Linked DNA regions of Homo sapiens: region 2 is linked to region 1. The links come from fine-mapping of genetic effects on gene expression. A gene starts in region 1. The other region holds a variant in brackets. All regions are shown on one strand. Distances are from middle to middle.

Region 1 (5,332 bases):
GTCCTAGTCCATGCACCCTGGAGATTTCCGTGAGGAATCCTAGGGCTCTGTGACTCACCTAGGGCAACTCCTGCCTTGTCCAGATGGGATCATCAAGAAAAACCCTTAAAGTAAGATGGCACTTGAGGCTCAAGCCAAGGGGGTATTGGGAAGACGGCTCCAAGATTTTAAAACCTATTGCTTGTGTGACCTTGGATGAGTCACTTAACTGCACTGGGCCTCAGTTTCCTCATCGGTAAAGATGGGGATAATGATCCTTCCTACCCCATAGAGTTACTGTGAGGATTAAATGAGTTAATAAACGTAAAGTGCTTAGGGCAGTTCCAGGCTCACAGTAAGTGCTCTAGGGCATGGCACACAGGAGGCACTCAATCAGAATTTTTAAAATGAAAACAAAGCACCAAGCTTCTCAAGCTATAAGATCCATGACTTCCAAGCTGTAGGCCTCCTCTCTGTGTGACTCTGAAGTACTCTGACGTCTTCATCTGCCAGTACCTTGGGGTGCCTGTGGGAGGCCAGGAATCCGAGAAATCTGGGCCAAAGGGCAGGATGAGGGCACTTACCTGAGATCTCTGAGAACTTGGGACTACTACCACCGCCCACCAAGGCCAGAAGGTTGGAGCGGTGCAGCATCTCCACCAAGCCCATGCTGCCCACCTGCTCGTGGTCTGGACAGGGACCAGGGTGTCAGTGGAGGTGGGAGCCAACGCCCAGCCCAGCTCTTCTGCCCATTGCCCCTCCCCTGCCAACAGCTCACCCAGATGCCCCTTCTCCATCAAGGGCTCCACGTTGTAGATGCGCACACCTGTCTCCATGGCGCAGCAAAAGCAGCCTGGGGGATGGAAGGAATCCAGACTGCCTTAAAGAATGCCCAGGTAGGAAGCTGGGGGCCCATGGCCCACTTCTGACCCCTCTTTTCCTCGCTTCCTCCCACAAGGGTACAGGCCCAATCCTCTCTCACTTTGGTCTTGGTTGAAACGCAGGCTGGTCACTCCTCGAAGTGGCTGTTGAGTCATGGTGCAGGATTGTTCCTCTGCATACAAATGGGATAAAGATGAGAAGAGTCCTGGAATCTCCCCTCCAAGTTCTGCCTCACCTGATTTCCTCCTCCTACTCTGCTAACTACTGACTCTGGAGTGACTGCAAAAAAGATAAAAACAGGCCAGGCGTGGTGGCTTATGCCTGTAATCCCAGCACTTTGGGAGGCCAAGGCGGGTGGATCACCTGAGGTCAGGAGTTTGAGATCAGCCTGGCTAACATGGTGAAATCCCGTCTCTAATAAAAATACAAAAGTTAGCCGGGTGTGGTGGGGGGCACCTATAATCCCAGCTACTCAGGAGGCTGAGGCAGGAGAATTGCTTGAACCCGAGAGGCTGAGATGGCAGTGAGCCGAAATCGAGCCATTGCATTCCAGCCTGGGTGACAGAGCGAGACTCCGTCTCGGGGGGAAGAAAAAGATAAAAACAGAGAGTCCCAGGGTCTCTGCTCTAAGCTCCCAAGATCCCAAACAACATGGCCAGGAACCCTCCTTCTTTCAGGTTTGGCAAGCTCCAGGCCCACACTGACGTGGACCCCACACCTCCTCTTTACATGCTGGCCCTCACTGACTTGTCAGGAAGTAATGTGATAGGGGGTGCCCCCGTGATATCTCCTCCCCACCGCCAGCCAATCTTGATCCCAATGCCAGACATGGCCTGGAACCACTCCCAACCCATTTCTCATCTTCAAACCTGACCTAGCACCGGACTCTCTCAATAAATAGACAAAAGTGGGCTAGGAGATGCACTTCTTGTACCTCCCTGACTTGGCCCTGGGACTGCTATGCTTGGTCTGCCATCCCCAGGAACTCCTCTGCTCATACCCTTCTAACTGTACCCCAACCTATTTGACCACCCCAGAGTCCTCTCACACCTTTCCCCCTCAACCGGCTTCCCCAAACTCCTTCAGGATGCCTACCTTGGGATGACCCCTTCTCATGCCTTGGTAACTACCCTTCAGGGCCAGCCTAGACATTCCCTTAGATTGGCTTATGCCCTGGGGACTCTACCCTAGGATTCCCCCTAGCACTCTAAATTTTCCACCCCTGGGACATCTCCTTCCTTGTGTTCTGCTGTCCTTGACTACAACATAACCTGGCCTGGACCCAACCCCAGGAACCCCCCCCATCCTCCTAAGATTCCCCCTCTAGACCCCTATCCAAGACCCCGCCCCAGGGCACCCTTGCCTTCTAAGACCCTTGCCCAAAACAAACCACCCAAAACTCCTACCTAGGAGAACCTCAACCCCTAAGATGCCTGCGCAGTCCCCTACTAAGATTACTGCCATAGAGCCCCCAACTTCCCTTCAAATCCTCAACTCCCCAATAACTCTGGCCAGACATACTCCCTCCCCCATCCTCCAAGAGTCCAAATCTCCTTCCTTTCTTTCAGTTACACCCTCCACTGGAATGCCTCATGCTCTTTCTTTGGACAGCTCTGCCTTAGAGTTATTCTCTGGACAGCTCCAACTTTCAACACCCCTTTTTTGCACCTCCATTCCAAGACTCTGTCCGGGATGCCTCGCCCCTCTCCCAAGACCAGCCGCATGCTCCTTCCAACGCCAGCACCCACTCAAGACCTCTGCCTTAGACCCCTACTCGAAAGACTTCCAGCCTCCCCCAGACCCAACCAACCCTGGGATCGTGCTCCAGCTTCCTGCCGCCTTCACCGGCCTGACCTCCGCGTGTCCCTGACCCGGGCCCCAGCTGTCGGTGCCGCCCGCGGCCCGGTTTTCTGACCTCCCGGGCCTTGGAGCCCGGCTCGGGTGTTTACATCAGGCCCTACTTCCGGGGGAGGGAGCCTGTCGCAGGAAATGACTCACCCCAGCTGGAAAAAGGCGGCCACCGCCTTCCTCGCCTAGTTCCCGGGTCTTCGGAGCATCGCGAGTGACAGTGGGGTTCTCCGGGGAGGGCGCGGGGAGCGGAGGAAGGTTGGCTGGGGGACCGGAGGCGAAGGGGGTTCCTCAAGGCCGAGACTGTCTGAGGGAACCCGGAAGGGTGGGGAGAGAGAGCGTGCCTTGCCCCCAGCAAAGCGAAACCGGCCAAGCCCTCAGCCCCTTGGTCACCCACAATGGGGGAGTAAACCTTCCCTGCTAACAAGACGCGGACCTCCGCGGCGGCCGAGAGTAGCCGCCCCGGTTCGCAACACACAGTCCTCCCAGGCTTCCAGAGGGGCGGCGCTGGGGGTTACAGGCGGGGGCGGACCTGGAGACCTTGAAAGTGGAGAAACCTCCTTGGCTCCGGGAAGCCAAGGAACAGATTTCGCTTTCTTTCTCCCCACCCTGTCCCCCCAACCCCGCCAGCTCTGAGTTTTGTCTTTTGTGTTTTGTTTAGTTTTGTTTTCTGAGACAGAGTCTCGCTCTGTCTCCCAGGCTGGAGTGCAGTGGCGCGATCTCGGCTCACTGCAACCTCCGCCTCCCGGGTTCAAACGGTTATCCTGCCTCAGCCTCCGGAGTAGCTGGGACTGCAGGCGTGCGCCACCACGCCCATCTAATTTTTGTATTTTTAGTAGAGACGGGGTTTCACCATGTTGGTCAGGCTGGTCTCGAACTCTTGACCTCAGGTTATCCACCCACCTCGGCCTCCCAAAGTGCTGGGATTACAGGCTTAAGCTACCACGCCCGGCCTCTGCTTTTATTTTTACAAAATACAAAATAGCTTTTTGATAGTAAAAGGTATGAATGCTTTGGGTTAAAAAAAAAAAAAAAAAGAGGTCCTACCTATGATAAAGCTTTTAAAAAAAGGCCCCAAATTATATGCATACTGGAAGGAATTTTTTTTTTTTTTTTTTTTTTTGATTAACAGAGTTTGGCTCTTTTTGCCCAGGCTGGAGTGCAATTAGCGCGATCTTGGCTCACCACAACCTCCGCCTCCCGGGTTCAAGGGATTCTTCTGCCTCAGCCTCCCCAGCCTCCCAAGTAGCTGGGATTACAGGCATGTGCCACCACGCCCAGCTAATTTTGTATTTTTAGTAGAGACCGGGTTTCTCCCTGTTGATCAGTCTGGTCTTGAACTCCTGACCTCAGGTGATCCGCCTGCCTCGGCCCCCCAAAGTGTTGGGATTACAGGCGTGAGCCACTGCGCCCGGCTGGAAGGATTTTTAATTAAACTTTACATTAAGAAATAATAAATAGGCTGGGCGCGGTGGCTCACGCCTGTAATCCCAGCACTTTGGGAGGCCGAAGCAGGCAGATCATGAGGTCAGGAGTTCGAGATCAGCCTGGCCAGCATGGTGAAACCCCCTCTCTACTAAAAATACAAAAAGTTAGCCAGGCATGGTGGTGCGTGCCTGTAGTCCCAGCTACTCGGGAGGCTGAGGCAGGAGAATCACTTGAAGCCAGGAGGAGGAGGTTGCAGTGAGCAGAGATCGCACCACTGCACTCCAGCCTGGGTAATAGAGTGAGACTCTGTCTCGAAAAAAAAAAAAAAAGCCGGGCGTGGTGACACGCGCCTGTAATCCTAGCTACTGGGGAGGCTGAGGCAGGAGAACCACTTAAACCTAGGAGGCGGAGGTTGCAGCAAGCCCAGATCCTGCCATTGCACTCCAGCCTGGGAGACGAGCGAAATTCCCGTCTCAAAAAAAAAGGGCTGGGCATGGTGGTGCATGCCTGTAATCCCAGCAATTTGGGAGGCCGAGGCAGGTGGATTGCCTGAGCTCAGGGGTTTGAGACCACCCTGGGTAACACGGTGAAACCTCCTCTCTACTAAAATACAAAAAATTAGCCGGGCGTGGTGGCGGGCACCTGTAAGTCCCCTACTTGGGAGGCTGAGGCAGGAGAATCATTGGAACCCAGAAGGCAGAGGTTGCAGTGAGCCAAGATCGCGCCACTGCACTCCAGCCTGGGCAACAGAGGGAAACCCTGTCTCCAAAAAAAAAAAAAAAAAAAGAATATTCTTGAAAAAAAAGAAATATGCTTTTTGCAGTGGCAGTATCATAGCCAATGAGGTTTAGCCAAGGTGTGGATATTGCTAATTGGAAACTTCCCAATACCCCGCCCCGAAGACTTGCAATATAGTCGGCATTGGCAATTTTTGACAGTCTATGAAGACTGAATATTAAAGAAAAAATACAGAGAAATCTCATACTTTTAATACAATCAGGGTTTCACATTGATGAAATCCCCCCTTTACTTTTTTTGAAGTATTGTTTTGATGCTTCTGTTTTTTCATATATTAATATATAAGAACATCTTTTTAACTCATCCTTTTTAACTGGTTCATGATATTATGTAGCATTGTTCAGCCCTTCCCCAACTGATGGCTGCCTAGGTTGTTTCAGATACTGTGTCGTCAATT
Region 2 (5,367 bases), 65 kb after region 1:
CCTATGATATAATATTTCATAAGGGGAATATCCTGTTCTTCTAGAAGGGGTACATCTAATCTTAAATAATACCATAGGGAGAGCTTGTACCCACTTTAATCCTGTTTCTTGACACACTTTCCCTAAACTATTTCCGATAGTGCGATTCATCTGCTTCACCTTTCCGGAACTTTGTGGTCAGTAGGTGGTATGTAGTTTCCATGTGATCCCCAATACCTTTGCTGTCTTCTGTAACAAGTCAGCCACAAATGCCGGCCCGTTGTCTGAGCTGATTTGTAAGGGCAGTCCAAACCTAGGGATGAGATCTCGGAGAAGCACATGGGTTACTTCACGAGCTTTCTCGGTCCGTGTTGGATAGGCCTCCACCCACCCAGAGTATGTACACACTAGAACTAGCAAATACTTGTTACCTCCACATTTGGGCATCTTGGTGAAGTCTACTTGGAGATCTTCAAAAGGGGCTGCTCCATAAGCTTGTATGCTGGCGGGGATGGTTAGACCTTGCCTAGCATTGTGCTGCCAGAAGGTGACACACTGCTGCGCCACTGTTTTGGCAAGGGCTGAAAGATGCAAGATGTAGAAGTACCAGCCTAACAACTTTTCAAGTGACTCTTGGCCTAGGTGGGTGGTCTCATGCACAGCCAGTATGACTGCGGCTCCTAGCAGTTGTGGCACAGCTATTCTTCCATCCGATAACTGGATCCATCCCTCTTCTATCACCTGCCCTCCCTCTGCCTGGAGAAAGTCCTTCTCTTTAGAATAAGTAGGTACAAGGTCAGGTGCCTGAGGGAGCAGGGGGCTGTGACTGATGCCTGGTAGGGGGTGGATGCTGCTTTTCGAGCCTCTGAGTCAGCTTGGGGGTTCCCCAAGGCAATCGAGGTAGAAGCTCGCTGGTGTCCTCTGCAGTGCATGAGCCACCTTTTGGGGCTTCCACACTGCCTCTAATAATTGCAGGATCTCTTGCTGATACTTTATGTCTTTTCTCCCAGCGTTCAACAGGGCTTTTTCCTTGTAGAATGCCCCACGCAGTTGGAGAGTTAAAAAGGCATACCAAGAGTCAGTGTAAATGTTTACAGTCTTACCTTCACTTAGCTCAAAGGCCAGAATTAAAGCAATGAGTTTGGTCTTGCGGGCTGAAGTGCCCTAGGGCAACGATTTGGCTTCAATGACAGCATCCAGGATTACCATATCCTACACACCTCTCTTCTTGTGGGTCGACAAAGCTGCTCCCGTCCACGTACAGCTCCCAGTCTACTGTTGTCCAAGGATGGTCTCGGAGGTCGGGCCTGCTAGAATAAACTGACTGCAACACCTCTACACAGTTATGTTCAACTTGGCTCTCTGATACCAGGAGCAAGGTGGCGGGGTTCAGGGTGTTGCAAACTTCAATGGTTATGCGGGGATTCTCACAGAGCAAGCTTTGGTACCTAGTTAGTCTAGCATTCGTTAGCCAGTTACGTCCTTTGGTGTTCATTAGTGTTACCACAGCATGGGGAGGCCTTTATGTTTTTTCTTTTTTTTGAGATGGAGTCTCACTCTGTTGCCCAGGCTGGAGTGCAGTGGTGCGATCTTGGCTCACTGCAAGCTCTGCCTCCCGGGATCACGCCATTCTCCTGCCTCAGCCTCCCGAGTAGCTGGGACTACAGGCGCCCGCCACCATGCCCGGCTAATTTTTCTGTATTTTTAGTAGAGATGGGGTTTCACCGTGTTAGCCAGGATGATCTCGATCTCCTGACCTCATGACCCGCCCGCCTCAGCCTCCCAAAGTGCTGGTATTACAAGCGTGAACCACCGTGCCCAGCTAGGGGGCCTTTATGTTTAGGTTTTGCCCTAAACATAAAGTTAGGGCAAGAGGTAGCTTATCTGCCTCTAGTGCTAGCAGGGCAGTTGCTGCCAAGGCTCTTAAGCACAGGGGCCAGGCTCAATTATCGACAGATAATTCTTGTCGATACTGGTGCTGAACATTCAGTAGTAACCACCCCAGTCGCCCCCTTATCCAAAAAGACTATTGATATAATTGGAGCCACGGGGGTTTCGGCAAAGCAAGCTTTCTGTTTGCCCCAGACCTGCACTGTCAGGGGGCATGAGATAATTCACCAGCAATTCATCCTGCCTGGACTTTCTCCAGGCAGAGGGAGGGCAGGTGATAGAAGAGGGATGGATCCAGTTGTCGGATGGAAGAATAGCCATGCCACAACTGCTAGGAGCCGCAGTCATACTGGCTGTGCATGAGACCACCCACCTAGGCCAAGAGTCACTTGAAAAGTTGTTAGGCTGGTACTTCTACATCTCGCATCTTTCAGACCTTGCCTTAGAAACTCCATCTAGCTCTTTGGAGAGGTAGGCTAC[C/T]GGTCTTGGCCAGGGCCCCACCATCTGGATTAAAACTCCAATGGCCATTTTTTCTCTCTCTGACACATACAGTGTGAAAGGTTTTGTTAGGTCAGGTAGCCCCAGGGCTGGGGCCGACATGAGTTTCTCTTTTAACTCATGAAAAGCTCATTGCTGTTGGGACCCCCATTTGAAAAGTTCTGTGTCTCCTCACTTTGTGACTCCGTACAGGGGCTTAGCCAATACTGCAAAGTTTGGGATCCACAATCTGCAGAACCCTACAGCTCCTAAGAATTCTCTCACCTGCCTTCTGGTCTTAGGCTCCAGCAGGTTGCAGATGACTTGCTTTCTTTCTGATCCCAGGCTGTGCTCTCCCTGTCGGATAGTAAATCCCAGGTAACATACCTGCTATCTGCAGATCTGAGCTTCCTTCTTGGACACCTTATACCTATAGTCCTCCAGGTGCCAGAGCAGGGTATCCATTCCCTTGGCACACATGACTGCCATGGGGTGTCCCAGCAGGAAGTTGTCAACGTACTGGAGCAGCACGAAGCCTAGGTCTCTGGTGGGAATTTTCTGGAGGTCTCGAGCCAGTGCCTCCCCGAAGATGGTGGGGGAGTTCTTGAACCCTTGGGGGAGCCGGGTCCAAGTGTACTGAGTGGTGACAGCTGACTCCAGATCCTCCCACTGAAAGGCAAACAGTTTTTGGCTCTCAGGAGATAGTCTGATGCTAAAGAAAGCATTTTTTAGGTCCAAGCAGGTGAACCAGCTGTCCTCAGCTGGCAGCAACCCCAACAATGTGTATGGGTTGGATGCAAAGTCACTTTGCTTGGTTGACCATATGCAAATCCTGTACTGGCCTGTAGTCCTTGGTCCTCAGCTTGGGAACAGGTAGGAGGGGAGTGTTCCATGGAGACTGACAAAGGACTATAATTCCAAAGGCCCTCAGATGCTTGAGATGGACCCGGATGCCCTCAAGGGCTTCTCTGGGGACCAGGTACTGCTTTTGCCTGACCAGCTGGGCCCCAGGCTTAACTTCTATTAGTATGGGGGCCTGGTTGATTGCCAACCCTGGCGGGTTGTCTTCCTCCCACACCCTTGGCCACCGCTTAGCCAGAGCTGGTCCTATCTCTTGGCCTGGCTCAGCTAAGAAGAGTCTCCATTCCTCCTCCCGAGGAACCATAAGGGCCATGATGACTCCCTTTCCAGGTAACTTTAGCTGTAAAGAGCCATGCTTTGTAAAAGAGATAGTGGCTCTCAGCTTGCTAAGTAGGTCCCTTCCCAGTAAAGGCAAGGGGCAGTCAGGCATGTACAGGAACTGGTGAATTACCTCATGTCCCCCGACAGTGCAGGTCCAGGGCAAACAGAAAGCTTGCTTTGCCGAAACCCCCGTGGTTCTGATTATATCAATAGTCTTTTTGGATAAGGGGGCGACCAGGGTGGTTACTACTGGATGTTCAGCACCAGTATCGACAAGAAACTCAATGTCCTTGCCCCCGACTGTCATTCTGACCATGGGCTCTTTGGGTGCACATGAGCCTAGTCCCCCTCAGTCCAGTAACCCTTCTGCCAGATTAAACAAGGCCCTTTCGTCCTTGTCTGAGGCCTCCTGCTCAGTCACCTTGTTTCCCTTTCAACTGGGGGCACTTGTCCTTCCAACATCCCATTTCCTTACAGTAAGCACACTGGTTACGCTGCAAGCGTGGATGGCCGGACTGGGTATTTTTCCTGGGGCCCCCCTTTCTCGCCCCTTCGGGGGGGACCCCTCTATTGCTGTGGCTAGCAGGTCGGCGTTTCGCTGGGCTTGGCGTTCGCTCTCTCTGCAGTTCTCTCTGCGGCTTACAGCATCTCTATTCACAAACACCTGGTTGGCTATCTCCAATAACTGTGAAGTGTTCATGCCTGCAAACCCAGCCTGCTTATGTAGTTTTCTTCTAATGTCTTCTGCACTTTGACTAACTAAAGCCATGTTAATCATGCGCTGGTTTTCAGGGTTGTTGGGATCAAAGGGAGTATACATACAATAGGCCTCACATAGTCTCTCGTAAAATTGTGCTGGACTCTCTTCCTTTCCTTGAATAACCTCAGATATTTTATTTATATTGGTGGCCTTCTGAGCTCCTTTCTTTAACCCTTCCAGGAGGGCTTCCCTCTACCAGTTTAGCCTTTGCATACCCTGTCTTTCATTTGGGTCCCACTGGGGGTCTGTTCCTGGTAACTGGGCCATCACATACTCTTGGGGGTTTTTGTAATCAGCCGGAACATGTTCCTCTAGCCACTTAGTCGCTGCTTGGAGCACCCTTCGCCGTTCATCCGTGTTAAACAGGCACATGAGCAACTGGTGGCAATCAGCCCAAGTAGGGTTGTGGGTCTGGATAATAGTTTGGAGCAAATCAATTATAGCCTGAGGCTTTTCAGTATAGGATGGGGTATTGTTTTTCCAATTGAGGAGATTGGCAGAGGTGGAGGGTTGGTACACAAAGGCACGCCTTTCCACCATATGCCCGTCCTCGTTTACCCCAGTATACCGTTGCTCTCTCAGGGGCATTTGTATCCCAGTTTTAGGCCTCAAATGGGCTACCAAGTGAGGAGTTTCTCCTGAGGTCTTGCATCCTTTCTTTTCTACTCTAGGTGGCCTAGGGGTATGTAGGCCTTGTGGAAGCTTGGGCACAGTGGCCTCAGGAGTGGGAGGCCTTCTTTCTTGGTGAAAGGAGGGGCCACTGGCACTGTTTCTTGCCATGAATCCTTTGATGTTGGGTCGGACAGGACTTTAGGCGCCGACTTCCCTCAGTGGGTGAAGCGGGATTCTTCCTTGGCTGTCTGTCCCTTTGCCACTAGTACTGCTGCTGCCTGTCCTCTTAACCACTGTAGGGGGTCTAAAACCAGCTGTAACCAAGTGTCTATGTATGGAAAGTGGTCTGGGTTTTCTGGCTTACCAGTTACCTTGTGCCATACCTTTGAAACAAAGGACCTGTCTAGGCCTCCTTCTGATGGCCAACCCACTTCTAATGCTGGCTAATCTATCTCACTTAGGTCCTA

Alleles and levels. Alleles are on the strand shown, and positions count from the first base shown. SD is a standard deviation of normalised expression in the study named.
As copies of C replace T in region 2, the expression in sigmoid colon of the gene that starts at base 2,808 in region 1 goes down (moderate effect, 0.53 SD a copy in GTEx).

Evidence for each region. PIP is the estimated chance that this variant, and not a neighbour inherited with it, causes the effect.
Region 2: its variant is fine-mapped to the expression of WDR45 in sigmoid colon (GTEx, PIP above 0.99). The same link has a PIP of 0.9 or more in esophagus mucosa and spleen.

Annotation. Positions count from the first base shown.
Region 1 is chrX:49,077,080-49,082,411 of GRCh38, forward strand. It overlaps WDR45 (WD repeat domain 45), which reads right to left and starts at 2,808. Exons shown (of 11, transcript NM_001029896.2): 1 at 2,672-2,808; 2 at 962-1,033; 3 at 758-832; 4 at 564-668. The coding sequence starts at 1,016. It also overlaps the pseudogene RNU4-52P. RefSeq lists enhancers at 110-1,309, 2,759-3,259, 2,971-3,265 and silencers at 2,971-3,265, 3,508-3,577.
Region 2 is chrX:49,142,505-49,147,871 of GRCh38, forward strand. It overlaps LOC105373195 (a long non-coding RNA gene), which reads right to left. Exons shown (of 3, transcript XR_007068230.1): 3 at 1-3,015. Among named protein-coding and RNA genes, the nearest start is that of MAGIX, 18 kb to the right of the region's middle. The variant C/T (reference allele first, on the strand shown) is at 2,350.